Linked DNA regions of Homo sapiens. The protein of the gene in region 1 purifies or fractionates together with the protein of each later gene. This does not show direct contact. Each region holds a gene or a part of one and is shown in the gene's direction. Other genes may lie near its edges. The genes, in order: SLC24A5, RFC1, NACA, LIN28B, TMEM260, NSUN2 and ENAH.

Region 1 (4,222 bases):
GATATATATTTGCAAAAGGCATCCCACAAAAGGTGTGCCTACTTATACCTCCTTAAGCATCCATTCCAGAAAACCATGAAAAATATGTGAAATATCCTTGGTTGCTTTAACCTCCCATTATTTTATAAAATTTGTGTTTATCTTATTATCCATGAGGGTGAATATTTTATATGTTTATTTTATTTTATGGTTTTCCTTTTGTGTTTTTTTGCCCATATTATATCAGGGGTATTCTGTCTCTTTCTTATTGATTTTCAAGACTTTAAAAATATATAAGGATATTAACCCTTTTTCTAGTATTACTTCATATCATATGCTTTTTCATGGTTTGTTTGATTTTGCATTTTGTGTTTATCACATTGAAGTTTGAAGTTTAAATATTTTAAGTAAATTTGTAAATCTTTTTCTTTATGGTTCTCCTTTTGGTTTTATAACTAGAAAGGCATTTTTATCCATAGGTCACAACAATCATCATATTTTATTCTACATGCAGGATTTTTTAAAATTTATTTATTTTTTCCACTAAGAATCTGTCTTGCTATAGGATGTAATGTTCTTTTTTCCAACAGTTGATCAATTTTCATATACTAAGTTCTTATATAGATGTAGATCTGTCTCTATGCTCCCAACTCTGTTCTAATAACCTTTTTGTACATTCTTATGCCAATACTGCACTTTTAATTAGAAAAATGTAAAAAACTAAAAATTGAAAAATTAAAAATGTTAATCATATAAAACACAGAAATTTAAATTGTAAGGAATAATTTCCATTTCTAATGACTTAACTGAACAATGACATGACTGAAAAAATAAATCTATCAAGAATTTTATTATAAAAATTATCTTAGGAGAAGTGAAAAATAAATAAAAAACCTTTCTAGCCCTGTAGAAGACACTACTGCATTAAAATTTAGATTATGACTTCAAAATATTGTTCATTAAGTGACTTAATATGTCTAAGTGACTTCCAACGTGCACCTTGTGAAATTACTTTGAAAGATCATCAGCAAACATGCATTTCTCAAGTGAGTCTCTCTGCCCTGAAATACAGTAGTTCTTACAGATGTGTGATTGATGAATATCCATGCCACTGCCAAATCTTCAGCTGTTAAAAATTGACCCTCATCTTGAGTATTGAAAATACTGGCAACAAAATGAGATAGAAATAGTGCTAGCTCAATTCATTTTTAAATGCTTATAAATTAATTCTGTCACTTCTCTTTTCAAGTTCTAGCATGGTCTTATCCAAATTATGACATCAGCAATAAAAAACAATTTTCCTGAAATTTCTTCACATCTGCAGAAACGGGCTTCAAAAGTCTGCAAGTGCTTTGCCTTTCCCCAGTTTCTTGATGAGCATTGAGTCATAATAGTTCCACCCATTTTGTCAACTAATAGTTATCAACATAACCCTCAAAACAGTTTACTAAAGTATTCCACAATGTACTACAGTGTTATTTTTTATCAGTTACTTATGATAAAATTATAGATGAAAGATATATATCTTATAATAATATATGGTTTATATAATATATATGATTTTATATATATATATATGGTTTCACTTAGTCTTCCCAAAAACCTTACAAAATAGGGACTAATGTTTTGGTTTTACTGATGAGGAAGCCAAGGCTGGGAGGGTAGGTAATTTCTCATGACCACATAGCCACACAGAGAAAGTCCTGATCTCTCTAATGCCAAAACTCAAGCATGATCTCAACTGCTACATGATAAAACTTTACACATCCTTGTTTGAGATTCGTTGCTAGAATATAGTTGTTTCAGAACTGTTCTATTTGAACCATCTTACAAGAAATTTTCCTCTCGAGAGCACTGAAAATTTTGACAAAAAAATATCAAATACCCACAGTTACTATGGAGGAAGTATATTACAAAATAAAGAGAATACATTGAATTATTTACAAAAATCATTTTGGACCTTTGGCAACCTATAGGTGATTGTAAATCAATGCTATAGACACTTATCCATAAGCTCCCAGGCCTAAACATTTTGTCCAAGATCATGAGATCATAATGTAGTACAGTGGAACTTCATCATCATAGATGAGGCTATAATGTCTTGTGGGGTATGTATACTGAGTTCCAACCTAGAATACAATGGAAGGATTGGCAGGCCCCTGTCCCACCCCAGCCCCACTCACTCCTCAAATCACCACAGTGGCTCATTTGGCCAACAGCAGGATCTTTAGCCAGGTGAAGACTAGAAGAGGCTCAGGATTGTCATCTCCGTGCAGCGATGAGCTGGAAGTGGAAGAGGGCAGAGCCTCTTGCTGGTGCTCTGGCAGGGCCCCCGCTCGGTCAAACCAGTGCTCTTTCTCTTTTGGACCTATGTATGTTGGTCTTGGTCTCCTAGAGCTGCCTCCACCAGAGGCTTCCAGCAAGGATTTTTTTTCCTTCTCCTTGCTCTGCTCATGATCATAAAAGTCACACACCCTCTCCTCTACCCTCGAACACTGGAAAAGCTGGAAAAGCACCTATCTCTACGAGGCAACCTCAGACACTTTACCACCATCTTAACTGTATGGAGCCAATAAAAGAAAATGCTGTTGCTATGCCCCCTTCCTGTAATCCTATCTTCTTTTTCTGTCCATTTGGTTCTACAGGAAAAGAAGCTAATAATTCTCTGAACACAGAGGGCTGAAATGAAATTAATTGGTGTTGTAGAGGGGACACAAATATATCACCCTCTAGTTGTCCAGGGCATTTCACGTTTGGAGGAAAGCCTTGGCTTCTGGGCTGGGAAACAGAATGGAGATTCTGGGAAAAGAGTTAAAGATGTGATCAGAAGAGGAGCATTATCCAAGCCCAAGTTAGAGCTAAAGGAGCTAGAGGTAATGGGGTGAGGAATAAACTAAGGAGAGCTTCCTCATCCTAACCAGTTGTGCTACTCTAGAATGTTACCCGGATGGATACCCTGAGGGGTGTGTATGAGAGACAGGAAGAGAGACAGAGACACAGTGAGAGAGGAATCCAAATGACTAAGGAAAAGGAGGGAGCCTTTGTCGTCTCTGATCATTCATGTAAGCCTGACTTAGAAACCTGTGTCTAAGATTCCCTTGCTTAGTTTGTGAATTTAGTTACATCACTTTGTAGTCCTATCTGGTATTGTTTGCTTGGGGCTTTTTCCAATTTTTTTCTCTCTATATATTGATATAGTTGCTGAATGGTCTATGACAAATGCTGAGAATCCCCGGACAGCTGGAGGGGAAGGACACAGCCGTCATATGCTCTAGTGCCACACTCTTATAGAGAGACAATTGAAAGTGCCCACCCTGGAGCCAGATAGCCCAGGTTCAAATCCCGGCTCTGCCATTTGCTAGCACTGTGACCTTGGGCAAAGTTCCTAACTTCCCTCTGCCTCTGTTATCTCAGCTGTGAAACAGGGTGATTACAACTTTCAGTTCATAGTGCTGTGTGACAAGTGCACGAAGAAACACAAGTGAACTGCTTACACAAGTACCTAGCACATAGAAAACATTCACTGAATGTTCATTGTTACATAAGAACAGACTACAGAGGTTAGAATCCTTTACTCAGGAAAGATGAAAGTGGAGATGGGGAATACCAAAGCCTATTTAAGTATTTTTGGAGCAAATAACCAAATCTACGGTGCATCTGCTAGAACTTGAACACCAAATTTAAGGTAAATAAAAGTAAGGTCTATTTGACAAGGTAGGAAGTAAGCTTATTAAACTAGTTATTTTATCTAATAAGCCATGTGACAACTTTAAAGTATACCTTAAATATCTCTGGAATATTCTGTTTAGGCCAGGAGCAGTGGCTTACACCTGTAATCCCAGTGCTTTGGGAGTCCAAGGTGGGTGGATTACCTGAGCCCAGGAGTTCGAGACCAGCCTGGCCAACATGGTAAAACCCCATTTCTACAAAAATACAAATATTAGCCAGTCGTGGTGGCAGGCACCTGGCCTGTAATCCCAGCTCCTCGGGAGGCTGAGGCAGGAGAATTGCTTAAACCCGGGAGGCAGAGTTTGCAGTCAGCTGAGATCATGCCACTGCCCTCCAGCCTGGGCAACAGAGCAAGACTCCATCTCAAAATAAATAAATAAATAAAAATTAAAATTAAAAAATATTCTGTTTAAAGTTCCTTTTATTTCATTTACATTAGCATCTATACCATTTTACTTCATCTTTTATTGTTTAAAAAGTCACTTTTAAATATAATTTAAATTTAAATAATTTA
Region 2 (3,926 bases), on another chromosome or scaffold:
GTAGAAATGGGGTTTCCCTATGTTGGCCAGGCTGGTCTCAAACTCCTGGCCTCATGTGAACTGCCTGCTTTGGCCTCCCAAAGTGCTGGGATTACAGGCGTGAGCCACCACACCCAGCCGAGCCCCTTTTTGATTTACTGATTCACTGATTAACTTTGCTTACTACTTTGTAGAAATGTGGAGAATGCTGAATAGGTAAACATGATGACTTGAAGTGACCTTTTGTTTGTTTGTTTGCCTAAAGTTCCCAAATATATATATACGTATTTTTTTTTTTTTTAGACAGAATCTCACTCTGTTACCCAGCCTGGAGTGCAGTGGCGCAATCTCAGCTCACTGCAACCTCCACCTCCTGGGTTCAAGATTCTCATGGAGAAGCATGAGCCACTGTGCCCCACCTTCAGTCTTTTTTGTCATGGGCTCTATTAAGAATGTTATGAAAAATATGGAACTTATCCACAGAAAAATGCACGTACTTAGATTTACATGTATATACATAAATACTTTGCAAACAGTTGCAGGGGGCTCCCAGGGTCTCTTTAGGCTTACAGAGTTTAAAAGAATTGTTTGGGACTTAGATTTTTAAAAACTCCATCTACTCCTTTCATATAGGTGAAAGCAGCCTTCACAAGAGCTTACAATAAGGAAGCCCACCTTACTCCATACTCACTTCAAGCTATAAAGGCATCTAGACACAGCACAAGCCCATCCCTGGATTCGGAATACAATGAAGAATTAAATGAAGATGACTCTCAATCTGATGAGAAAGACCAAGATGCTATAGAAACTGATGCCATGATCAAGGTAGTATTTTAAGCCACAGACAGGAGAACCTCAAAATAGATGATCTTTCCTTGCCTGGTGAATAATAGGGCCTTTTCAGCACATAGCAGAATAACTTGAAAATACTTCTTAAGTTTTTTTGTTCATCATGGTTGAGGGTGGAGAAGGTAGAGATTTCATTTTTATAAAGTTTCTTATGGTAGTCGAAGAGCCAAACAGCAAGAAAACAGGCCATGATATTGACGGCCATATGTTCTGTTAGAAAAAGTACCATTTTTATTTATCTAGCCATTGGTGTATGCTTTCAAGAAAAATGTTTGTAACAAAACAGTTTCTTCTGTTGCTTATGTTTTGCTATAGCCACTAAACTGCTTTGTAGAAGTTTCTTAGAGCAAAACATTCTTGTCTTTTGATGGGAAATATGAAAACCAATTGTGGTATCAGCCTGCTGTGTACAGCTGGCTGAGCCAAGGAACCTCATCTGATCCTCCTCTGTCCTTCGCTGGGTGTGGGTGCTTCTTGCCCTTCATTTCTGTTTTCTGTATGCAGGAGTAGGAATAGTGGCCTTCTTCACTGTGGCTCCCATGTCGACCCTAACAGGTGGTCTTCCTCTCTCCCTCTCTTCTGCTTTCACAAAATGACTGTTTACACCTCTAATCTGAAACTGAAAGAAGAGGAAATTCTTCATCTAAACATTACCCTATTTGTCAATTACCTCTTGCTTATTTTGTCTTTCCTAAGTATACCTCTGTTCTAAATCCAAGAAACTGTCTTACATGGGGAACGGATCCTAGTTCTAAATTCTAAACTAAAAGTTTTTACTGCCAGCTTTTAAAGGCTGTAAGTGGCGCAGTTGTTGCTGTAAGCGCTTCATGGGTTGCAGTAGTTCAAGATCTCGATGTTTGCAGCCTCTCTTCTTTTTTAATTAAGTTGCAGGTAAAGATTAGATTTGTTATAGAGATGAACTTATTTCATTTACTCATAAACACAGCTATTAACTATTTTGTTATCTTCCCCCTAACAGAAAAAGACAAAATCTTCAAAGCCTTCAAAACCAGAAAAAGATAAGGAGCCCAGAAAAGGAAAAGGAAAAAGTTCGAAGAAATGAAACCATTTTTCACTAGCGACAGCCACTTTTTACTCTCCCTCCTGACCAGTCCAGCTGGTCTAGAGAAAGCCTTGTTTTTTCCCAGAGCAACCATGTTTTAGCATAATGGGATGACCTGGTGTCCCATTATAAATAAAGGGTGGTATGGCTAGAAGGGTATGAGCAGTAGGCTTATGTACACCTCTTATAGAGGTTGATAGGACTGCTTGGGTCCTCCACTGTCCTCTGTCAATCTAGTTAGACGTGCTTCTGAATGACTGTAGAATTGGAACTAGAAACTACACCTGGGCTTTGGAGTCAGATTTTAGTTAACAATAATGAGCCTGGGAGCAGTAGTACTAAGGCGTCTTTTGTAGGCTTAAGAATTTATCCTAATGGCCTTTATAGGACCAATGCTGATTTTTTTTAAAGGCAGTTCCTATTATGTGGTGAAATTTTGTAAATAAATGATTATACAAAACAGTCACCACCTAGAACTGGGTATTCTTTGTACATTGTCAGATATCTTTCAAAGTATAAATTAGGAATAAAAATGTTCCACATGATATGTGTACAAATTCTTTTTAAGATTGTCATCTTGTACAGCAAAATATTATGTTGGTATATTACTTCCTTATTAATTTGCAAATGATTGGATTAAAAAAGCTCACTGTATTCCTTACTAACCTGTTGTGTGAAACATAACATTGGCAGTCGAGGAGTCAGAACTCGGATTCCCAGCCTCACTCCCTCTGTGTGTGTTGACCACGTCTCTGCTGTGAATAGGATTTCATGCAGTGGTCTGTTATGGGGCTTTGCAGCGTGGGGGGCTGCAGAAGATTCTCAGACATTCTTATCCTTCTGGAGTCTCAACCCATCAGGTTCAGACCAGTAGGAACCAGGCTGGGTCAGGCTCTTAATTTCACTATGGTGGGGGACAAAATGAACACTGGCTTTTGTTCACTTTGCCCCTGAGAGATCTAGTCCTGTCCTGTGATGGCTTCCACAAACCCTGTTGGAAGTTTGGGTTATTCCTATAACTGTATGTGTTGAGTGGCCGTGAGGCTATGGACCTAGCCTGGAATTTAGATGTCTAGCTATTTTTTAATCTTGTTGGTAAATGCTCAGAGGTCTGTGCTACCTCTGTGAGGTATATACTAAAATGAATGTAAAATAAGGATCGTATTCCCTGCTTTAAGGAACTGGTAGTCTTGTTTGGGTGATGAGACAAAGTTCTTGAGACATTTAAACTGTATTTACCAGTGTGAAAAATGTCATTTATGGAGATTAATTCATTATGGAAATAAAACATTGCCTAAGCCCTTGCCTGCTGAGTCACGACCCTGTCTTTGTTAAAGTCCATCTTGAAATTCTTATGCTTCAGGAAAGGTTTTCTCACCAGTAGGGTGAGGCTGGCTTTCCTATTCATGTTCTTCCATTTCTATGCCTTTTGGATATGCAAGTCACGTCTCCCTAGGTCTTCTGCAGCCCCCAGGAGAGAGACTTGAATCTCCATGCAGCCAGGATGCGGCATAGTGTCCTTCACTTGTTCATTATGATTTTGTTTGTAATTTTAAATGTTTTAAACCCAAGATTGGGATAATATGTGTGTAAAATTAATAGCATTTCTTTTAGAATTAGAAATTGTAAATATGCCCTTTATGAGGATGGCATAGGTCTGATTCCTCTTTGAAGCCCTCGTGACCATGAGGTGAATGAGTGAGATTCATGGTAGGAGGCAGTTGGTGGTTCTGCAGCAGTTTGGATGTGAATCTGAATGGTCTGTATTGGGGTTGAGTCTTCATTGGAGCCACCGATGATGTGGCCTTTTGGAGCCACTTGATGGCACATGCCATCTTTGCAGCATAAAACTGTATACTTACTCTTTTCGAGATCCATTGAGTCACGGCCATTTTGTTACTTACACACCATTCAGCTTTAGCCTTCATCTTGTTAAATGTTGGCAGTTTGTAGCACCACCATGATTTGATCTCTTAAAGTTACTGATGGGGTAGATTATTTGTACTAGGATGAGTAGCTTCCTAAACAAGCTCCA
Region 3 (4,222 bases), on another chromosome or scaffold:
ACTGTCATGCCAAACATTGGTGTATTTTGACATAATGAAACACTTAAATTCCAAGTTAAGGAGTGGGGATCCAGTGTATTCTCGCCACTCCAATTGTCTTCTTTGGTTTGTTTTGTTTTGAGACGGAGTCTCACCCTGTCACCCAGGCTGGAGTGCATGCAGTAGCGCGATCTTGGCTCACTGCAACCTCCACCTCCTGGGTTCAAGCCATTCTCCTGCCTCTGCCTCCTGAGTAGCTGGTATTACAGGTGTACACCACCACGCCCAGCTAATTTTTGTATTTTTAGTAGAGACGGGGTTTCACCATGTTGGTCAGGTCGGTCTGGAACTCCTGACCTCGTGATCCGCCCTCCCAGGCATCCCGAAGTGCTGGGATTACAGGCATGAGCCACTGTTACAGGCTCTCCAATTCTCTTCTTCCAAAATAGCACCACAATCTGGTTTAACAAGTTAGGTTACAGTTTCATAATACAGTCCCTACCCTTGTGAGTAAGCTCTCTGCCTGGAGGTCTAATTCATGTCTAATTCATCTTGGATTGATGTCTGAAGAATTAACATCACCTAGGAAGGTTTATAGAGACTATTACAGTCCTTTTGTGGTTGGTTTTCTTGTTTGGGTTTTGTGAGTAAGTAAACTGGTAAGGTATAAAGAAGCTAAGTGACTTTAATACTTGATATTAAATTCTGAAGTGTTTCAACTTTAGGAAGAACTGAATTGTGCTGTGCACCTCCTTCCCAAAACTATTCTAACAGAGTCAGATGTTTCCTAGCCTAGTGGAAGCCTGAAAGTATAAAAGCCTGTGTTTTCTTATTCAGTTCAGATTCCCCATCATCGTCACTGCTCACTAACTTCTTTGTTCCAGTTTTCAGTATCTTTTCTGTTCATGATATTTGGGTGGACAGAGTAGCACAGCTGTTCTTCTCGTGGGAATTCTGTTGGCTGTGAGAAAGACTTGGGAATACAGTCCATTTCAAGAAGTAAGGGGAGGGCACAACTGGGAAAGGATAGAAAGCATGTTGTTCTCAACCTACCAAGAGTCTGTGCTCCCCATTTAGAGATAGGCTGCTCTTAGACTGTTCTCCTCACCCTAAAATAGTTGGTTTACTTTGGTAGAACTTGGGGAAGTGTGAGAAATTAGGAGGGGAATGTCTTCTCACTTGACCACTGAAAAATGTTTGGGGAAGGTTGTTGTTGCCTGTCACCTTTATCTAATCCTGCGTGGTGACTTAGACTGTCAGATTTTAAACTCCAGTGTTTCCTAGGAGGCATGTTGTACCAAGTTGGGCTGCATAACTCACCTTTTTTCTCCTCCCCCTCCCCCTTTCTTTATCTCCTTTTGCCTTTCTCCAGCTGTGCTACCTATGTCTTCAGCCTTGAGTGTCACTGCTGCCTTAGGGCAGCCTGGACCTACCCTCCCCCCTCCTTGCTCTCCTGCCCCACAACAGTGCCCTCTCTCAGCTGCTAACCAGGCTTCCCCATTCCCTTCCCCCTCTACTATTGCCTCGACCCCTTTAGAAGTTCCTTTTCCCCAGTCATCCTCTGGAACAGCCCTACCTTTGGGAACTGCCCCTGAAGCCCCAACCTTCCTACCAAACCTAATAGGGCCTCCCATCTCCCCAGCTGCCTTAGCTCTAGCCTCTCCCATGATAGCTCCAACTCTGAAAGGGACCCCTTCCTCTTCAGCTCCCTTAGCTCTGGTTGCCCTGGCTCCCCACTCAGTTCAGAAGAGTTCTGCTTTTCCACCTAACCTTCTTACTTCACCTCCTTCAGTGGCTGTAGCTGAGTCAGGGTCAGTGATAACTCTGTCAGCTCCCATTGCTCCCTCAGAACCAAAGACTAATCTTAATAAAGTTCCCTCTGAGGTAGTCCCTAATCCAAAAGGCACCCCCAGCCCTCCATGTATAGTCAGTACTGTTCCTTACCACTGTGTGACTCCCATGGCCTCTATTCAATCTGGAGTGGCCTCCCTTCCTCAGACAACACCCACAACTACCCTAGCCATCGCTTCCCCTCAAGTCAAAGATACCACCATTTCCTCAGTTCTGATTTCTCCACAAAACCCAGGAAGCCTCAGCCTGAAGGGGCCTGTTAGTCCACCTGCTGCCTTATCTCTTTCAACTCAGTCTCTTCCTGTGGTGACCTCTTCTCAAAAGACTGCGGGTCCCAACACCCCCCCAGATTTTCCCATTTCTCTGGGCTCTCATCTTGCACCTTTACATCAGAGTTCTTTTGGTTCTGTCCAACTTTTAGGTCAAACAGGTCCTAGTGCTTTGTCAGACCCTACAGTGAAGACCATTTCTGTAGATCATTCTTCCACAGGGGCCTCTTATCCTTCTCAGAGATCTGTAATTCCTCCCCTTCCTTCCAGAAATGAGGTAGTTCCTGCTACTGTGGCTGCCTTTCCAGTGGTGGCTCCATCTGTTGACAAAGGTCCCTCTACCATCTCTAGCATAACCTGCAGCCCTTCTGGCTCCTTAAATGTAGCTACCTCTTTTTCATTATCTCCTACAACCTCTCTCATTCTCAAAAGCTCTCCTAATGCCACTTATCATTATCCTTTAGTGGCCCAAATGCCCGTTTCTTCTGTTGGAACCACCCCACTTGTGGTGACTAACCCCTGTACAATTGCTGCAGCACCTACTACTACCTTTGAGGTAGCTACTTGTGTTTCTCCTCCAATGTCATCAGGTCCCATAAGTAACATAGAACCAACTTCCCCTGCTGCCTTGGTTATGGCACCTGTGGCTCCCAAAGAGCCTTCTACTCAAGTAGCAACCACTCTGAGGATACCAGTCTCTCCTCCTCTGCCAGACCCTGAAGACCTCAAAAATCTCCCCAGTTCAGTATTGGTTAAATTTCCAACACAAAAAGACCTCCAAACTGTACCTGCCTCTCTTGAAGGAGCCCCTTTCTCTCCAGCCCAAGCAGGACTCACCACCAAGAAAGACCCTACTGTATTACCGTTAGTCCAGGCAGCCCCTAAAAATTCCCCTTCTTTCCAAAGTACATCCTCTTCTCCAGAGATACCTCTTTCTCCTGAAGCCACCCTAGCAAAGAAAAGCCTTGGGGAGCCTCTCCCTATAGGTAAGCCAGCCAGCAGTATGACCTCCCCTCTGGGTGTTAACTCCTCGGCCTCTGTAATCAAGACAGATTCTTATGCAGGCCCAGACTCTGCTGGTCCGCTTCTCAAAAGTTCTCTCATTACCCCAACAGTGGCTGCATTTCCTTTGGAAAGTGCTGACCCTGCCGGGGTGGCTCCCACAACTGCCAAAGGTACCTCAACTTATACAACTACAGCCAGCCCTTTTCTAGAAGGAACTGTCTCTTTAGCTCCTAAAAACCACCCAGTTAAGGAAGGTACTCTTACTACTTTACCCTTGGTTCCTACAGCTTCAGAAAATTGCCCTGTGGCTCCATCCCCCCAGAATACCTGTGCTCCTCTGGCTACCTTAGTGCTGGCCCCTGAAATCCCAAAGTCTGTGCCCTCACCCTCTCTTCCCCCAGCTGGGACTCCTCCAGGTACAAAAAAGGTTGATGGTATTTCTCATACTTCAGCATTGGCACCTGTTGCTTCCTCTCCCAAAGAGTGCCCAACTGAGGACTCTGGTGCTTCTGCTACTGCATCTTCCAAAGGAACTCTGACTTACCTAGCTGATTCCCCATCTCCTTTAGGGGTTAGTGTGTCTCCTCAGACTAAAAGACCTCCAACCAAGAAGGGTTCTGCTGGCCCTGATACTCCTATTGGAAATCTCTCATCCCCTGTTTCTCCAGTTGAAGCTTCATTTCTTCCAGAGAATAGTCTTTCTTTCCAAGGCTCTAAAGACTCACCAGCCACGACGCATTCTCCCACTCCTCCATCCCCCAAAGGGGCCCCTACTCCCTCAGCTGTGACTCCTCTGTCTCCCAAAGGAGTAACACTACCCCCCAAAGAGACCCCCACTCCTTCAGTGGTGAATCTGCCCTTCCCCAAAGAGGGTCCAGCTACTCCAGCACCCAAACAGGCTCCTGCTCTATCCATGACTTCTTCCTCCCCCAAAAAGGCCCGAGCAACTCCAGCCCCTAAAGGAATCCCAGCTTCCCCATCCCCCAAAGGGGCCCCCACACCCCCAGCTGCAACTCCTCCCTCCCCTAAAGGAGGCCCAGCTACCCCATCCCCGAAATGGGCCCCCACACCCCCAGCTGCAACTCCTCCCTCCCCAAAAGGAGGTCCAGCTACTCCAT
Region 4 (4,222 bases), on another chromosome or scaffold:
TTATATTTCTTAAGCATATAGCTAAAAATGGACACACATGATATTTTTATGCTCACATCACAATGTAAAATTCATTCCAACTACAAAGGCAAACTGATGTGGAACAGTGTGGAGGGTGAACAAAGGGGACTAAAATCATGTATAGCTTGTATGGAGTATATAGTTGTGGTATAATTTGTGAGCTGCAAGGTAGCTGAACATTTCTATTTTGGTGTCAGTCCCTTGGGAAGGAAGGGGTTTCATAATGGAGAGTGATCTGTACTCTTAGTAAGAGTGATTGACACTGAATGATTAAATAGAAGAGAATATAAATACCACTCCTCCCCCTTTTAAGGCTAAGCACATAGACACTAAATGCAAATCTTTTCAATGTGGAAGAAAGTCTGGCCTAATGATAGCACATATCAGGAAAGCCAAGGGGGTGAATTAACTATGCAGATCAAAATGTAAGGAAACCAAAATTATATAGCATCCTTAAAAATAACTTTTATAGCCCAAATCTAATGGTAAATGCACAGATAGAGGGTAATTGAAGATCCCATTTGTGAAAGTAGAATACTGACATCAGGCTCCTGGTCAATGAGTGGGCAAAATGGTTCCCTGAATTGGATAACACAGTGCATACCACGGTGACTGATAAAATTGATGTGTCTGCAGGAGAGCCAGCCCTATTACTGAAGCCTTTAACCTATTTTCTGTCTCTTTGAAAATGAGCTCCTGAGTGGAAGTTATCCTCAAGGAAGTGAATTTAATTCAAAAGAAGATATTTTATAGATGGGCAACTTTAATTTAAGAATTCACTTATCTATTGTAGAGGAGAACTGTGTGGGAAAATATATTATTATAAGTAATGTGGTTATATTTTTCAAATATGTCATTTTTTAGTGTTATTTTGAGAACCTGAATTTTAAGCATTAGCAAGTAAACTTTATTATTTAATCTTACACTCTCTTAGAACATATGGCTGAAACAATATTGAATCTGCACTGTAATACTTTATTAAGATATGTAATTATACAATGAATAATTTAACTACAACATGTGATTTCTTGTTTTTTTTTCTCTTTTTGAAAATATGATTCAGTCTGTCCTAAGATAAATACTTGTTAATCATTGCAAAGAATAAAAGCCCATCTTATAAATTCATTATTCTAAAGTATATAAGGTAATATTGCTAACTGGAGAAGCAGGCAATAGTTACCCTAATTTTTGCCAATTAAAAAATTCACTGTTCAATTTATGCCAGGAGATAAAATACTAAATATCCTATATACACTGCTTAGTAGGTTGTTAGTACCTTAGTAGTTTGTCTATGAAATATAAGGTAGAATAAATTATTAAGTTTGATGTTCTCACACACATACAAATATGTCATCATAATTCACTTCTTGTTGTGAGTCTGGACTTAAGCCAATTTTCTCAGTTAACACTTTTTTTGTTGTTGTTGTTGGAGATGGAGTCTCACTCTGTCGCCAGGCTGGAGTGCAGTGGCGCAATCTCGGCTTACTGCAACCTCCGCCTCCCAGGTTCAAGCAGTTCTGCCTCAGCCTCCCGAGTAGCTTGGGACTACAAGCGCGCGCCATCATGCCCAGCTAATTTTTGTATTTTTAGTAGAGGCAGAGTTTCACCATGTTGGCCAGAATGGTCTGGATCTCCTGACCTCATAATCCGCCTGTCTCGGTCTCCCAAAGTGCTGGGATTACAAGCGTGAGCCACCGCCACCCAGCTAGTTAAAACATTTTGTTATTATTTTTTAAAAACATTATAACCTGGCTGGGTGCAGTGGCTCACGTCTGTAATCCCAGCACTTTGGGAGGAAGGGGCAGGCGGATCACTTGAGGTCAGGAGTTCAAGACCAGCCTGGCCAACATGGTGAAACCCTGTCTCTACCAAAAATACAAAAATTAGCCGGGCATGGTGGCACATGCCTGTAATCCTAGCTACTCCCGAGGCTGAGGCAGGAGAATCGCCCAAATCCGGGAGGCAGAGGTTGCAGTGAACCGAGATCACTGCACTCTGGCCTGGGCAACAGAGAGAGATTCCATCTCAAAAAATATATATATATAACCTGTTGTTCTTTGTGCTTCATAAATGAGATTTATGGAGTCATAAATGTATTTGGAAAATAAAATAGAAAGCTCTTAAAATATTTCATTTGGAGACAAGTCATTAAACAAATTCTGTATTTAAAATCAGATTTAACACCTTTGGTAAATATAAATTTTTCTTAGTTTCTTCCACTAATGGTTTTTTTGTTACTTTTAATATAAAATTTTAGAAGAAAATCTGATTGAACAAATATACCTCTGAAAAAATTTTCTTGCTTAGCTTTCCTTGCCAAGCTAAAAGCTGAACTTTCAAACATCTAATACAAAGCCATGTCCCCAGTGTGCATTCACATATTATGGACGGATTTCCATTTATTTTAACTTAAAAGAGATCACCCTAAAAGAAAGCTAATTTCTTACAAAAAAGAAAAGAAAGTTAACTTTTCTCATCATTGAACTAGCATGAACCTTTATTAATTCAATCTAAGTATTTAGAAGCTTTCTTTTTTTAGCACTGTTCTGATTCAGACATTTACTCTATTGCTCTAAAATTACTTGGTAATTTGCCAGATATCATCCTGACTTTCTGACTAGACTCTGACTTTCTTATATATCAAATTTCACTGCATTACTTAATTTTATACAAAGGAAAAAAATTTTTCCAGTTTAGCTGGTTTCTACAGTCAAAATAATTAACATTCAAAGAAGTGTTAAACTTTTAAATTTGGTCTAAAATTTTGCCAGTTTCTGAGTGAATTGCCACTTTGTATCATGCCAACAGCTGTATTTCTACACTCTTGTTTTTAAAACTGGCTTGTTGTTTTTTGTTGAATATTCGCTGCCCTCTAGTGGGCTTAATGGTTCTTTTAAAATGACCAGATAGTGTCAAATTTAAAGGAATCCTTTCTATATGGAAGTGATTAAATATTCTTACATGTTTTAATACTCTTGTTTTTCACTGTGTTTAGTTGTGTCTCACACAACTAAGTTTTTAACCTCACCAGAACATTTTGGTGATGATAGTCTTTGAACCAACAGTGTAACCAGTATAAACAATGATAAATGCTTTTAAGAAGGCACATTAAAATAAGCTTATCTCATTGGTAGTTTGTGTGTTTTCACATTTTAAAATGTGTTTTTGGATACATGCTGCCTACTTCTAAGATGTTTTCATCTTTTTTCCTTGTAGATGCTACAACTGTGGTGGCCTTGATCATCATGCTAAGGAATGTAGTCTACCTCCTCAGCCAAAGAAGTGCCATTACTGTCAGAGCATCATGCACATGGTGGCAAACTGCCCACATAAAAATGTTGCACAGCCACCCGCGAGTTCTCAGGGAAGACAGGAAGCAGAATCCCAGCCATGCACTTCAACTCTCCCTCGAGAAGTGGGAGGCGGGCATGGCTGTACATCACCACCGTTTCCTCAGGAGGCTAGGGCAGAGATCTCAGAACGGTCAGGCAGGTCACCTCAAGAAGCTTCCTCCACGAAGTCATCTATAGCACCAGAAGAGCAAAGCAAAAAGGGGCCTTCAGTTCAAAAAAGGAAAAAGACATAACAGGTCTTCTTCATATGTTCTTTCCTTTACCCGGTTGCAAAGTCTACCTCATGCAAGTATAGGGGAACAGTATTTCACAAGCAGTAGCTGACCTGGGATTTTAACTACTATTGGGGAACTGTGAATTTTTTAAACAGACAAATCACTCTAAGCAAATTACATTTGAGCAGGGTGTCATGTTTTATGTTAATTCAGAGAATAAGATACTATGTCTGTCAATATGTGCATGTGTGAGAGGGAGAGAGCCTGAGTCTGTGTGTGTACATGAGGATTTTTATATAGGAATGTAGACACATATATAAAGAGGCTTTGTCTTTATATATTTGTGTATAGATCAAAGCACACACCCTCTCTCATATAATTGGATATTTCCAAGAATTGAAAACCCATGTGAAGCATTATAGATAGTTTTAAATTTAACCCACTGGAGTTTTCTTGAAATACCACTTCTTTTATATTATATAAAACTAAAAACACGACTGTTACCTTTTGTGTGAACCAAAGGATACTTCAGATCTCAGAGCTGCCAATTATGGGGTACTAAAGGTTTTTAAGACATCCAGTTCTCCCGAATTTGGGATTGCCTCTTTTTCTTGAAATCTCTGGAGTAGTAAT
Region 5 (4,222 bases), on another chromosome or scaffold:
TCATACAAATGCCATACAAATTCAAGTCAGAAATGGGCAGATTTCCTTTTGCATTTCTGAAAGTTCCTTTGAGTAAATGGAATGAACATAAAATTGCCTTAAACTCCAAGTGGAATCAGAAATCTTACTTTCTAAAAATAAAATTGGATTGCACTTAGGGGGAAAAAAGGACCTATTCTTGTGTACTGATTCCCTTTTTCTGGAAATGATTATAAACTCCAGAAGTAAGCAGTAGACTGATTTTTTTTCAATTGCACAATTAGCTGCTGCTTATCAGGTGATAGTATTCTCTCTTCAAATATACATATTATTTTAGAATGTATTGAAACACTAAATGTTGATTGTATGATGGGAAAAGAATGGCATAGAAAATAAGCCTAGTCTTATTAAAACTGTAGCAAAGTGTTGCTATTTTAATTTTTTTGGATCCTTTTATTTAGTGTTTGTGACCAAAGGACCAACTATGTGATTGATAAGTTCGCAAAGAACCTTCTCACCTCTATGCCTCATGATGCAATTATCTTACTCAGAGGAGATTTGCCAGGAAATTCTCTCCGTTACATGCATTACTGTGAGGGGTTGAGGCCTGACATTTCATTAGTGGATCAGGAAGTAAGTATATGAAAAATATACTTAGAATATAGCGATGATTTAAAAACATATGTTTTGGAAAAAACATCTTTTTTAAAATGGTGGACGGGTACAGTTTTCATGATCACTGTTAGGTAGAATATATATGACATTCTACATGTTAGGTAGAATATATATGGGCATACTTTTTTTTATTTTAACTAATAGTGTAAGTCACACTAGTTGCTTCTTTCTCATTTAAAAACATTTAAACTGAACGTTTTAAGAATTAATGTGTTTCATGTTAGATTCATAATGTTTTAGGTCTCTAGTTCATGTGACAAACCATAAAAGTGTTTGTTGTATGGTAAATCTATTTTTAAATTGTTATTTTACATTCAGGCCGGGCGCAGTGGCTCACGCCTGTAATCCCAGCACTTTGGGAGGCTGAGGCTGGCGGATCACGAGGTCAGGAGATCGAGACCATCCTGGCTAACATGGTGAAACCCCGTCTCTACTAAAAATACAAAAAATTAGCCGGGTGTGGTGGCACGCGCCTGTAGTCCCAGCTACTCGGGAGGCTGAGGCAGGAGAATGGTGTGAACCTGGGAGACAGAGTTTGCAGTGAGCCGAGATCGTGTCACTGCACTCCAGCCTGGGCAACAGGGCGAGACTCCGTCTCAAAAAAAAAAAAAAAAAAAAAAATTGTTATTTTATATTCAGCTAACTCAACCATTCAAATTTACCTTGCCCATTGGTCCAGGGATTAAAATAAATTATATTGAATATGAAATAAATCATACTGTAGGTAAGTAAACATTTCACTCAAAATAGAAATTATTAACCATAATTATGCTATAGAATTTTTATATAAACTTTCTTAATGCTGTGACAAAAATACATTAAGAGAGGACTTGTGAAAATTTTGAGGGCTATGAAAACTTTTTTTTTCATTGAAGAACTATTTAAACTAAGATTTATTATTTAAGCCATAGATACATAAAAGGGAAGAAACCTGTCTCTGGTGTTTTTAGAGCAGTCATTAGGAAAAGAGAAATTCTTAATCTTAAAAGAATAATATGATGAATTCAATTGAACAAATTATTAGGCATAGTACTTAATGCACTTTGTTGAATTAATGAATAATTATAATTTTTGGAGAAAACTTTATAAACAGATTTGTAAATATACAATTTTACATTTTTATAAGCAGTTGCATTTATATCATGGATGCCGATTGATTAATTTGAACTTCAGTCTAGATTCTGACAAAAGCTATGTTATTTGTTAATAACATGGTTCCACACTATGATTTTAAACACTGTTTAGAATGTCAGCTCCTGTAGTTGAGAAGCATGGATTAGAAAGTGAATTAGACCTAAACTCAAGTCCTCATTCTGTCACTTCCTGGATATGTGACATGGGGCTAATGATTTTTCCTCTCAGAGCTTCTGTTCCCTTATTTATGAAATGTAAGTCATCATTATGTAAGTTAGGGTGCATTTGAATGCAAGAAACAGAATACCTGACTTAAATGACTGAGTTTTTAGCCTCACATGAGACGCAGTCTGGAGATAGGTGATGTTAGGATTGATAATATGAGCAGTTCAGGGACGTCAGTTTCTGAGGCAGTTTTTCTGCCATTCTCTTGACTTTTCCCTCCCAGTCACAGGATGCATGCCCAGTTCCAAACATCACAACCTAAAACAAAGCACAGTGCTTCTTCTGGGGTATCTCCCTCTCTCTATTTATTGGAAATAACATGTGCCCCAGAAGCCCCCCAGCAGACCTCCACTCAGGCCCCACTGACCAATACTGAGTCATATACTCACACCTAAACTGCTTATTAGCAAAGGAGAATGACTAGACTGAGAACATTGCAGCCTGAGCTACCTGATCAAAATGAAGATTGCATTAGTGAAAAAGAAGAAGGTATTCACTGTTGAGTGGGCAATCAACAGTGTCTGATACAGTTATTCTCACATAGCAAGGTTATTTTGAGAACCAAATGAGGAACAGTAAAGTCCATAGCACACAGTGGGTATGTAATTAATATTAATATCCTCCAGAACCAGAACTATTGGGTAATAAAGCCTAATTCAGTAAGTATTTTTTGAGTATTTACAGTTTAGACTTAGATTAAAATTAATTTGTCATTTGCTGGGTAATGTCTTACATAAGACAAGTAAAACATAAGCACAATTTCTCAAATGATGATATCCGAACATAACAAAGCTTTGGTGGTGTTAATGGGAGTCTCTTCTTTAAAAAGAGGGAATGAATACATATCAAAGTATAGAGTTAAGTATGTGTTAAGTATAGAATTAAGTAAAATGATTTTTTCTAATATAAGTAAATTATTTAAATCAAAAGAATGTGTAAACTTGTAAGGATATGTAATTAATATAGGGCTACTAATAAATTCAGATAATTTGAAATGCCAAAAGAGTTTTTAACTTTGAGGCCTAGATTATTACATGATTGAGCTTCTCCAGGGCAGGGATTATATCTTATTCATTATAGATGAGCATACTTGATTTTTTTAATGAATAAAATAATGGCTATTTTGTCTAGGTTGTCTAGTCTGGCCATCAAAGGCATTTCAATTTCAGCAAACATGATTTGAGAACTGGCCAGGTGTGGTGGCTCACGTCTGTAATCCCAGAACTTTGGGAGGCCAAGGCGGGTGGAGCACTTGAGGCCAGGAGTTCGACACCAGCCTGGCCAACATGGTGAAACCCCGTGTCTATCAAAAATACAAAAATTATTCTGGTGTAGTGTCATGTGCCTGCAATCTCAGCTACTTGGGAGGCTTAGGTAGGAGAATGAACCCAGATGGCGGAGCTTGCAGTGGGCTGAGATCATGCCACTGTACTCCAGCCTGGGTGACAGAGTGAGACTGTCTCAAAATAATAATAATAAATTTGAGAACCGTTCTATGCCAGGCAGTGTGCTAGGTGCAGATACACAGAGATGAAAAAATACAGTGCCTTTTTTCTAGGAGCTCACAGTCTGGTGAGGAACAGGCTCTCATAGAGGTGAGTACAAAGTACTAGAGGATCATGCCATTCTGGCTATGGAGACAGAGGAGGGCATCAGAGGAAGTGATATTTACAGTGGTTCTGAAAGTTGAATACACGTTCTCTAGGTCAGTGGTCCCCAACCTTTTTTACACCAGGGACCGGTTTTGTGAAGGACAGTATTTCCACAGACTGGGGGTTGGGGGTGGGGGTGGGGAATGGTCTCGGGATGAAACTGTTCCACCTGAGATCATCAGGCATTAGATTCTCTTAAGGAGCATGCAGCTTAGATCTCTCACATGTGCAGTTCACAATAGGTTCACACTCCTGTGAAAATCTAATGCTGCCACTGATCTGACAGGAGGCAGAGCACAGCAGTAATGCTGGCCCCTGCTGTGCGGCCCAGTATGGGGACCCCTGCTCTAGGTATAAGAATGGGGGAAGGTCCTTCTGGGGAGTCAAATGCGGGAGGTAAATTGGAAGAAGGTACTGATGTGACTGATGATAGTCATAATAAAATCCAAAGTTTACATCACTAAAAAAGTAATCAGTACCACATTCTCAGTTGTGCTTATATTTTTCAATTATATATATATTAGGTTGGTGCAAAAGTAATTTAGGTTTTTGCCATT
Region 6 (4,693 bases), on another chromosome or scaffold:
AACTGGGATCACAGACAGGCGCCACCGCGCCCGGCTAAGGAAACCAAACCTAGGACCACTGAGTGGCTCTTTCCAGATCAGTTTCATCATGTTTTTTTCCATCACTCCCTTCCAGTCCTTTGTTTCCCGCCCTTTCCAGACGAATCCCTTCTGGTTTCCAAACTCCCGGGGCCGGGGGACTCGGGGAAGGGCACCCGTGCAGATGGGGGACGCCCCGGGGGATCTGGCAGGGAGAGGGCATCTGGGTGGGGGAGGCTTCGGGGAGAGGGCACCGGGCAGTGAGGGGAGGGTCGGAGAGGACGCCGGGCCGGGAGTAGGGTAGGGGGCCGGGGGCCGGGGACGTTACCGATGCCCGTAGTGGACGAGGAACATGGCCAGGAGGATGCAGTTGGGCGCGCTGCGGAGACGCGGGGCGGACTCGCTGGCGTACTGGTAGAGCGGCAGGGCCAGCGAGGGCAGCTCCTGCACCACCCAGGCGGCCCGCGCCGGCACTCGGAGCCTGTGGCTGGGCAGCGCGTGGCGGCCGTACACTGAGTTCGTCTGACGATTGCGCGCGAAGACCGCGCAGCCCACGGCGCACTGCAGGTAGGCGAGCGCGGCCAGCAGGCGCTCCTCCGCCACCCCCGTCGCCGTTGCCATCGCCAGGGCTGGGCAGCGTGCTCCATGCCCCAGAGGCCGCGGCGGGCAACATATAGGGCGGCGGCGCGGGGGCAGGAGGGGCGGCTACCGGAGGGGCGGCTACCGGAGTCCCGCACTGCCGGGACTCTGCAGAAAGGGTTCTCAAGTCAGGCTTCTCCGGGGTAGCCGGGGCTGTGGGTGCGGCCCCGGGGGCGGGGCGAGCACTTGCGCGGGGAGGGACCTGCAAGCGCCCCACCCACGCCGGGGCCGCAGTAACCCCGCGCCGCTCTGCGCACGCGCGGCTTCAGGCTGTCCGCGGAGCTCCTTGAGCCCGCGTGGGAAACCTGGGCGCTTCGCGCGGAGACGCCTTTGTGGCTGCTTCCTGGAGCATTTTTTTCCCCTTAGAGCTGTTCGCTGTTTTCCCTGTCACGCCGCTTTTCTGAAAGACGGGTTGTGCGCTTTGGGCTTATTCCTGGACGGTCCCCAAAGGTCCCCGAAAGGACCAGGCCCGGACACGTGGGGCCTTGGTTTCCGGCCGGAAGTCCCGGGAGGTGTAGGGCTAGAGTTCTGGCCGTGGCGGGCCGGTTTCTGCGTGCTGCGTGCGCGGCCGCGTGGGCTATGGGGCGGCGGTCGCGGGGTCGGCGGCTCCAGCAACAGCAGCGGCCGGAGGACGCGGAGGATGGCGCCGAGGGTGGTGGAAAGCGCGGCGAGGCGGTAGGAGCCGGGACCCGGCGGGCGGGCCAGGGGCTCCTCCTGGGCTTCCCGGACCCCGAGGCCTGCGAGGCGGCGGCGAGGGGGCGGCTCCTTGGGCCTCGGGGTAGACGTCTCTTTCCTTCCTCAGGGCTGGGAAGGAGGCTACCCCGAGATCGTCAAGGAGAACAAGCTGTTCGAGCACTACTACCAGGAGCTCAAGATCGTGCCCGAGGGCGAGTGGGGCCAGTTCATGGACGCTCTCAGGGAGCCGCTCCCGGCCACTTTAAGAATTACTGGTTACAAAAGGTAGGGAGGCAGTGCCTGATTTTTTGGGAGTTGGGGCCAGGATGCTGGAGGTTAAAGGCGACGGTGTTTTCTTCGACAAGTGTTACAGTGCCAGAGAACCGTGGCGTTTCAGCGGTTTGGATTCAGGAAGCATTGAGGTGGGGAGCACAGGGTCCAATGAAATGGTCACGGAGGTATTGCAGGCGCAAGGTTAGAAGACGAAATGAAAATGAGATCTGAGGAAGATTCGGCTCCTGGGGAATCTTCCAGGAGGGAAGCTGAGGGTCTTACCTTTTGGAACGTAAGAGAATTTATAGAGAATGCATAAAACCCCTTGGTTCTCCCCTCCTCCGCGCCCCCCCTCCATCTTTGTAGTTACATCTTTCTAAATGAGTCGCAAGTAAAACTTAACGGTAGGATATGCTTAGGAGAGAAGGAATGCAGTGTTGCTCTTAGGGCTCAAACAGTGTGGATTGCTTAAATTTTGAAGGCATACAGTGTAAAAGTAGTGACTAAAGAATGTTTACTCTCCATGCAAAAGTTGGTTTTAGTTTTAAAACACTTGCAGTCTTAAATTTAAGAAGATACAATGTATTAACTTAGTTTTTTAGATCAGTTTGAAACTTCCTTATTTTTCAATAGCCACGCAAAAGAGATTCTCCATTGCTTAAAGAACAAATATTTTAAGGAATTGGAGGACCTGGAGGTGGACGGTCAGAAAGTTGAAGTTCCACAGCCACTGAGTTGGTAGGTACCACAGTGCTTCATGCCGAATATTTATTTGGGATATTAATCTCTATCACTTGAATTATATTTCTTGGTACTGCATTTGCTGTTAAAGAGCTTGGGTATACTTTGCAAACATCCTAATGTTCTAGTACCTGGTGCTTTTATCAACATTATATTGCTACGCAAGTTTTCATGCGATTTGCGATTTGCAGCTTTATGAGTCACTGATTTCAGCCAGCTCTTCCTAGTACATCCAGCCTCTTCCTTTATGTCACCACTTCCGCCAGCTCCCTTTTACAGCCCTTGTTTTCTCACATCAAAACTGTTGCAGAGTGGCTGCTTTGCCTTCAGAAAAAGGACAGACTTAGCTTGACAACAGTCTCCTGGTAGGTAGTCTCTTAGTGTTTTCCATTACAGACAGGTTACCACTGTCTGCTGTCAGGTTGTCTCCTGGTACTTCGCAGTACAGACTGCACCAGCCAATGTAGCATTTCCGAGTCTCAGCACCCAAGCGTGCTACTACTCTGGGAGCTACCTCTTTCTTGACCTGTCCTGGAGGTGCCTTCTGGGTTACCTATTCCTCATGGCTCGGTTCTAGTCTCAGTTGTATGAAGGTGATCCCTTGTGCTGATAGCATCTTGTAAAGATGCTTGGAGAACTCCGGAGGCGCCAGTCCTTCAGTTAACTTACATAAGTGGGAAAGTCGTTATTATTAACTTTGAGGTATTGAGTTCTCAGAAAAGTAATGCACGAAAAGGTGAATTAAGCCGTTTTTTGTTTGTCTGTTTGTTTGTTTGGAGACGGAGTCTCACTCTGTCGCCCAGGCTGGAGAGCAGTGGCACCATCTTGGCTCACTGCAAGCTCCACCTCCCTGGTTCACGCCATTCTCTTGTCTCAGCCTCCCGAGTAGCTGGGACTACAGGTGCCCGCCACCACGCCCGGCCAATTTTTTTGTATTTTTAGTGGAGACGGGTTTTTACCTTGCTAGCCAGGATGGTCTCATCTCCTGACCTCATGATCCGCCCACCTCGGCCTCCCAAAGTGCTGGGATTACAGGCGTGAGCCACTGCGCCCTGCCAAATTAAGCGTTTTGCATCAACTTTTGAGGTTTTGACTATTCCAGTACGTAGTGTTATCTTTCCTTTTTGGATAACCTTTAGTGTTCGCAAATCAAGGTCAGATTTTCATTAATCATGGGGTACAGATTTGCTTGTTTTTCTTTCATTGGCTATTTGGATTTTCATTGTCCCTATCACAGATAAGCATATACATTCACAATGAATGCTGACTGGCCAAACATTAAGTCAGTATTCAACCAGTATCAAGACCGAATATCACCATCATGGAATGTGTTGCTGGGATATAGGAATAAATATGACCAACATCGTGAAACCCTATCTCTACTAAAAATACAAAAATTAGACAGGCATGGTGGCACACGCCTGTAATCCCAGACACTAGGGAGGCTGAGGCATGAGAATCGCTTGAACCCAGGAGGTGGAGGTTGCAGTAAGCCAAGATCATGCCACTGCACTCCAGCCTGGGCCACAGAGCGAGACCATGTCTCAAAAAGGGAAAAAAGAATAGATATGCCACATCTTAGATTTTTAAAAGCTTGAAGGGTACAGTATAGGAAAATGATACGGGTGCTACGTTGCTGTTAGTGGTCACTAATTGTCCACTGTAGTGAGATCAGTGGAAAAGGTAGATGTTTTTCAGCCTCTAGTTATGGCATTGCTGAGATGAGGTAACCTTCACGAGATCAAGCTTTTCTTCCTCCTGGTAACTAGGTTGTAGACTTTGCTCAAGTCGTTTGGTTTGAAGATTTGATTGACGACACTGATTGTGTTGTACTTGAAGTAGAGGTCTGATACTGTAGTAGTCCATTTTCACACTGTTATAAGGACATACCTGAGTAATGTATAGATAAAGGAAATAGGCTTAATTGACTCACATTTCCACATCGCCGGGGAGGCCTCAGGAAGCTTAAAATCATGGCGGAAGATCTCTCTGCACAGGGTGGCAGGAGAGAGAATGAGTGCTGAGCAAAGGAAGAAGCCCCTAATAAACCATCAGATCTCCCCCTGAGAACGAACTCACTGTTGTGAGAACAACATGAGGGAAACGGCCCGGGGATTTAATTATCTCCACCTCGTCCTGCCCTTGACACGTGGGGAATATTACAATTCAAGGTGAAATTGGGGTGGGAACACAGAGCCAAACCATCTAAAATATTTTAAGAAGACAGGATTACGATTCTCCTCGGGCATGTTTGTATTTTTAGCAGTGATGCATGTATGTGCTGCTTCACACAATCACCTGGAAACATTTGTTTCTAAAACCTTGTGTTTAGAAGCGCAGAGACGGG
Region 7 (4,222 bases), on another chromosome or scaffold:
CCCTGCTTTGTTTTGATTCTTATCAGTGCTTCAAATACCAATCACTGGGTAGTGTATGATACTCTTGAAGTATTAGTGTGGGCTGCCATAACAAAATACCATAGACTGGGTGGCTTAAACAACAGAAAATTATTTTTTATTTTTATTTATTAATTTTTTTGAGACAGTCTCACTGTGTCGCCCAGGCTGGATTGCAGCGGCTCGATCTCAGGTTACTGCAAGCTCTGCCTCCCGGGTTCACACCATTCTCCTGCCTCAGCCTCCTGAGCAGGTGGGACCACAGGCGCCTGCCACCACGCCTGGCTAATTTTTTTGTATTTTTTAGTTGAGATGGGGTTTCACTGTGTTAGCCAGGATGGTCTTGATCTCCTGACCTCGTGGGATTACAGGTGGGAGCCACAGCGCCCGGCCTAGACATTTATTTTAAGGTTCTGGAGGCTGGAAGTCAGAGATCAGGTTGCCAGTATGGATGGGTTTTGGTGAGGGTTCTCTTCCTGGCTTGCAGAAGATATCCTTCTCTCTGTGTCCTCACATGGTAGGGTGGGTATGGGAATCCTGGGGTCGGGGAGATGAGGGGGGATTTCTCTCTCCTCCTCATTTCATAAGGCCATTAATCCTATTGAATTAGGGCCCTGTGCTTATAACTTAATTTAACATTAGTTACCTCCTAAAAGCCCTTTTTCCAAATAGAGTCACATTGAGGGTTAGGGTATTAACATATAAATTTTAGGGGAACACAGTTCAGTCTATAGCAGAAGATAACTACATTTTTTTTTTTTGTCAGTGCATACAACTTTGGAAGAAAATAATTTGTTTAATATTTAGGTGAACTTTAGATAAGTTTTGTTTTAAGTAACCAGAAGTTGTTTACTAAAGAAGATAAATTAGGGGGGTTGATTGATTTATACAAGATATCCGTTAAATTTTCTAGAAATCTCTTTACACTGGGAACCTTCTATTTTACAATGATTAAAGTAAGTTTTATTAACAGGCAACTTTTCCAAAGACTACTTTGGGTATGAGGCAATGTATGTATATCTAAGTGTAGAGATTGAATGGTGTAGGGTAAAGAGGACAGGCTTTGAAGTTAACTCTGGGTTTGACTCTAGTTTGACATTTACTAAATAATTTATTTTTGAGTGGGTTATAAACATTTTTTGGGATCGAATATACTTTGTGAATTATAGAGCTGTTGAGAAAATTAAATAAAATTCTGGCATAACACTTGGCACACAAAATGAGCTTGATAAGAGTAAATCCCCCACTTTTATGAAAGTCTGACATCTCTTAAGTTTATGTTAAGAATGTGAAAAACCATGTAAGATGGTGCAGCTGCTTTAGAAAACAGTTTGGCAGTTCCTCAAAAGTTAAACATAGAGTTATCGTATGACCCAGCAATTCCTTTCCTAGAAATGAAAACATTTGTCCACAGAAAAACTTGTACACAAATGTCTATAGTATCGTTATTCATAACAGCCAAAAAGCAGAAATAACCCAGGTGTGTCTGATTTCATGAATAGATCATCAAAATGTGGTATGTCCATACAACAGAATAATATTTGGCCATCAAAAGGAATGGAATTCTGATACATGCCACAGCGTAGATGGAAGCATTATGCTAAGTGAAATAAGCCAGACACAAAAGGCGATATATGCCATGATTCCATTTATATGAAATGCCCAGAATAGACAGATCTATATAATAACACCAGAAGATCTCATTTGCTTTTTACGTGAGTTGTTTCTGACATTTTTATTACTTTGGATTAATATTTTGAATTGACATCTTCGTGCTATTTAAAGAAGAGAGATTGAAGATAGAACCACTGGACATTTCTCTGTAGGGAAACAAGCACGTGGGAATGCTGAGGTGGAAACCTTGGTAGTGGTGGCTTTGAAAGGCCTGAACAAATTTTGGAGCTGTATCTTCGTGCTAAGGAGACAGCCAGCCATCTCTTTGGTAGGCCTGTTGTAAGTAAGGATGACTAAAGTCACCAGTAAAATGTGATGAAGCAAATCCATCAGAATCTTCAGAAAACTTAAATCTGGGTGGTGATTTTCTGGGGTTTGTTTACAGTAGTCTCAAATACCAAAAGTTTTGTCTTTGGGGAATGAGGTAATCATGATATTTTTAAATAAACTGAGCCCTTTTCCAGTGGTAAAGGCCTTATAGAACATCTGGTCTTGGTAAGAATACATCTGATGATGTGAAATCAAAATGACTACCTTTAACTGTGCCTTAGAGGTCCTCAGTCTTCTGTCCTTTTTGGTATCTGTTACATTTGCAACTTGGCAGCGGGGGAGCTTTATGAAGAACCAAGAACTTAAGTAAAATAAAATGAATAGCTCTTGAGGTCAAATCTCAAGGGAGTCCAAATTGCTCCTTTTACAGTTCAGTGAAGGGATCTTTTTATGCAGTCTTAATAATTATTATATACTGGTTATTTGAATATCTGCTTTGTTCTGCAGTCTTTCTCCTCCTCCCCCAAATTCTCATGTTAGACTGATATTGCAAGCAAAATTGTGACCGTTCAGTTTTTAACAATTTAAGATTTATGTATCTTAAGTTTTCATTTAAAACTTTTACTTACAGTCTACTTAATTGTGGTCTTTGCACAATTTTTTTAGAATTATTTTTAGAAAAATAAATCAATTACTGTTGTCCATATGTCTGGTCAGTATTTTTTTAAATTACTTTTTTCCTTCCATTGTAAAGTAGTACAGATTTTGAACAGATTTTAGAAGGTATGGAAAGTATAAAACATTTATTTATGAAATGTTAAATCCAAGCCATCTAGTATTTTAATATTTTAATGTGTAGATTTCTAAACTTTTTGTAGTGCATTTGCAGCATTGCAGATCATTGTGCGTGTGCATATGATTATATATAAAAGTAAGATTATACTATTTAAAAATGGAATTATACTATATTTGTATTGTGTATTTTGTAGCTTGTCCCTTTCCATATATATAATATCTATACTTTTTACATTTTATTATTTTTATTTTTTAAATAGGGTCTTAAACTGTCACCCAGGCTGGAGTGCAGTGGTGCAATCATAGCTTACTGCAGCCTCGAACTCCTGGGCTCAAGCGATCCTCCCATCTCAGCCTCCTGAGTAGCTGAGACTACAGATGTGCGCCACCACACCCTCTAATTGTTAAGATTTTTGTGCAGAGACAAGGTCTCGCTATGTTGCCCAGGCTGGTCTTGAACTCCTGGCCTCAAGTCATCCTCCCACTTCAGCCTCCCAAAGCACTCGGATTACAGGCATGAGCTGCTGTGTCCAGCCAGTAATTCTTGTTCCTAACTATATAGCTACATAACTTTAAGTGACTGCATAATATTCCATTGCTTTGGATGGATGACTTTGTCTACTTAAATCTTAAAGATGGACTTTTAGATTTGTTCCATTATTTTTGTTATTATAAAAAACACTGCTGTGAACATCTTTGGTTATATGTCTTTGTGTACATATCTGATACTGTTTTAGGATACATTCCTAGAAGTAAAATCAAGAAGTAGTGCTGTGTTTTGTTTTTTTTTTTATTTTTTGTTTCTTTACCTTTCTGTATCCAGTCTATCATTGTCCTACCAGGTCACCTTCACTTGCTTCTGTCCATCTCACTGCCTCAAGTCCAGGCCACTGTTATCTCTTACCTGAACTATTAGTGTTTCCTCATTTCCATTCATGTCCCCTGTTCTTCATGCATCACTCAGAATACTCTTAAAGTGGAAATCAGATATTGTTATTTCCCATGTAAAGCCTTCAGCGGCATCTTAGACTAAAACCCAAATTTGTCATAAAACCAAAATTATTAAGGTCTTGCGTGACCTGGCTCTGCATTCCAAGTTCCCAGCACAGGCCTCTGTGAGTATGCATAAGTATTTGAGTGAATAATAAACAAAATGACTAAAGGGAGTTGTATCAGTTTTTGATACACGTTACCAGATAAGCAAGAGTAGATGAGATTTCTAGTTACCCCACATTCTGGCCAGCTCAGGCCATTATCGGTCTTTTAATCTTTGCCAATGTGATAGGTAAAAGGTGTTACCTCATTGGTTTAATTTGTATTTCTTTGATTACCTGTAGGGTCTCTTTGTTTGTTTATTGGACAGCTTTATTTTTGTGTGGATGTCTGTTCATGTGCTTTTTCTGTTTTCCCAATGAGATGTGTAGTTTTTCTTCTAATGATTTATAATAATGAGGATATTAACTCT

What was found.
Region 2: the proteins of SLC24A5 (region 1) and RFC1 purify together in Homo sapiens (affinity purification with mass spectrometry; one large-scale study listed by BioGRID and IntAct). This does not show direct contact.
Region 3: the proteins of SLC24A5 (region 1) and NACA purify together in Homo sapiens (affinity purification with mass spectrometry; one large-scale study listed by BioGRID and IntAct). This does not show direct contact.
Region 4: the proteins of SLC24A5 (region 1) and LIN28B purify together in Homo sapiens (affinity purification with mass spectrometry; one large-scale study listed by BioGRID and IntAct). This does not show direct contact.
Region 5: the proteins of SLC24A5 (region 1) and TMEM260 purify together in Homo sapiens (affinity purification with mass spectrometry; one large-scale study listed by BioGRID and IntAct). This does not show direct contact.
Region 6: the proteins of SLC24A5 (region 1) and NSUN2 purify together in Homo sapiens (affinity purification with mass spectrometry; one large-scale study listed by BioGRID and IntAct). This does not show direct contact.
Region 7: the proteins of SLC24A5 (region 1) and ENAH purify together in Homo sapiens (affinity purification with mass spectrometry; one large-scale study listed by BioGRID and IntAct). This does not show direct contact.

Annotation. Positions count from the first base shown.
Region 1 is NC_000015.10:48,123,750-48,127,971, forward strand, and holds part of SLC24A5 (sodium/potassium/calcium exchanger 5 precursor), read left to right. Parts: intron 1-3,473; exon of another isoform or gene 3,474-3,664; intron 3,665-4,222. UniProt on the Homo sapiens protein: Calcium, potassium:sodium antiporter that transports 1 Ca(2+) and 1 K(+) to the melanosome in exchange for 4 cytoplasmic Na(+). Involved in pigmentation, possibly by participating in ion transport in melanosomes.
Region 2 is NC_000004.12:39,286,726-39,290,651, reverse strand, and holds the end of RFC1 (replication factor C subunit 1), read left to right. Parts: intron 1-612; coding exon 613-804; intron 805-1,807; coding exon 1,808-1,891; 3' UTR 1,892-3,196; downstream 3,197-3,926. UniProt on the Homo sapiens protein: Subunit of the replication factor C (RFC) complex which acts during elongation of primed DNA templates by DNA polymerases delta and epsilon, and is necessary for ATP-dependent loading of proliferating cell nuclear antigen (PCNA) onto primed DNA.
Region 3 is NC_000012.12:56,718,589-56,722,810, reverse strand, and holds part of NACA (nascent polypeptide-associated complex subunit alpha), read left to right. Parts: intron 1-1,351; coding exon 1,352-4,222. UniProt on the Homo sapiens protein: Cardiac- and muscle-specific transcription factor. May act to regulate the expression of genes involved in the development of myotubes.
Region 4 is NC_000006.12:105,075,177-105,079,398, forward strand, and holds part of LIN28B (protein lin-28 homolog B), read left to right. Parts: intron 1-3,237; coding exon 3,238-3,607; 3' UTR 3,608-4,222. UniProt on the Homo sapiens protein: Suppressor of microRNA (miRNA) biogenesis, including that of let-7 and possibly of miR107, miR-143 and miR-200c.
Region 5 is NC_000014.9:56,621,091-56,625,312, forward strand, and holds part of TMEM260 (protein O-mannosyl-transferase TMEM260 precursor), read left to right. Parts: intron 1-440; coding exon 441-612; intron 613-4,222. UniProt on the Homo sapiens protein: O-mannosyl-transferase that transfers mannosyl residues to the hydroxyl group of serine or threonine residues of proteins. Specifically glycosylates the IPT/TIG domain of target proteins, such as MET and MST1R/RON.
Region 6 is NC_000005.10:6,629,523-6,634,215, reverse strand, and holds the start of NSUN2 (RNA cytosine C(5)-methyltransferase NSUN2), read left to right. Parts: upstream 1-1,171; 5' UTR 1,172-1,236; coding exon 1,237-1,332; intron 1,333-1,459; coding exon 1,460-1,617; intron 1,618-2,238; coding exon 2,239-2,343; intron 2,344-4,693. Other genes in the region: SRD5A1 (3-oxo-5-alpha-steroid 4-dehydrogenase 1), read right to left, coding at 347-639. UniProt on the Homo sapiens protein: RNA cytosine C(5)-methyltransferase that methylates cytosine to 5-methylcytosine (m5C) in various RNAs, such as tRNAs, mRNAs and some long non-coding RNAs (lncRNAs).
Region 7 is NC_000001.11:225,642,725-225,646,946, reverse strand, and holds part of ENAH (protein enabled homolog), read left to right. Parts: intron 1-4,222. UniProt on the Homo sapiens protein: Ena/VASP proteins are actin-associated proteins involved in a range of processes dependent on cytoskeleton remodeling and cell polarity such as axon guidance and lamellipodial and filopodial dynamics in migrating cells.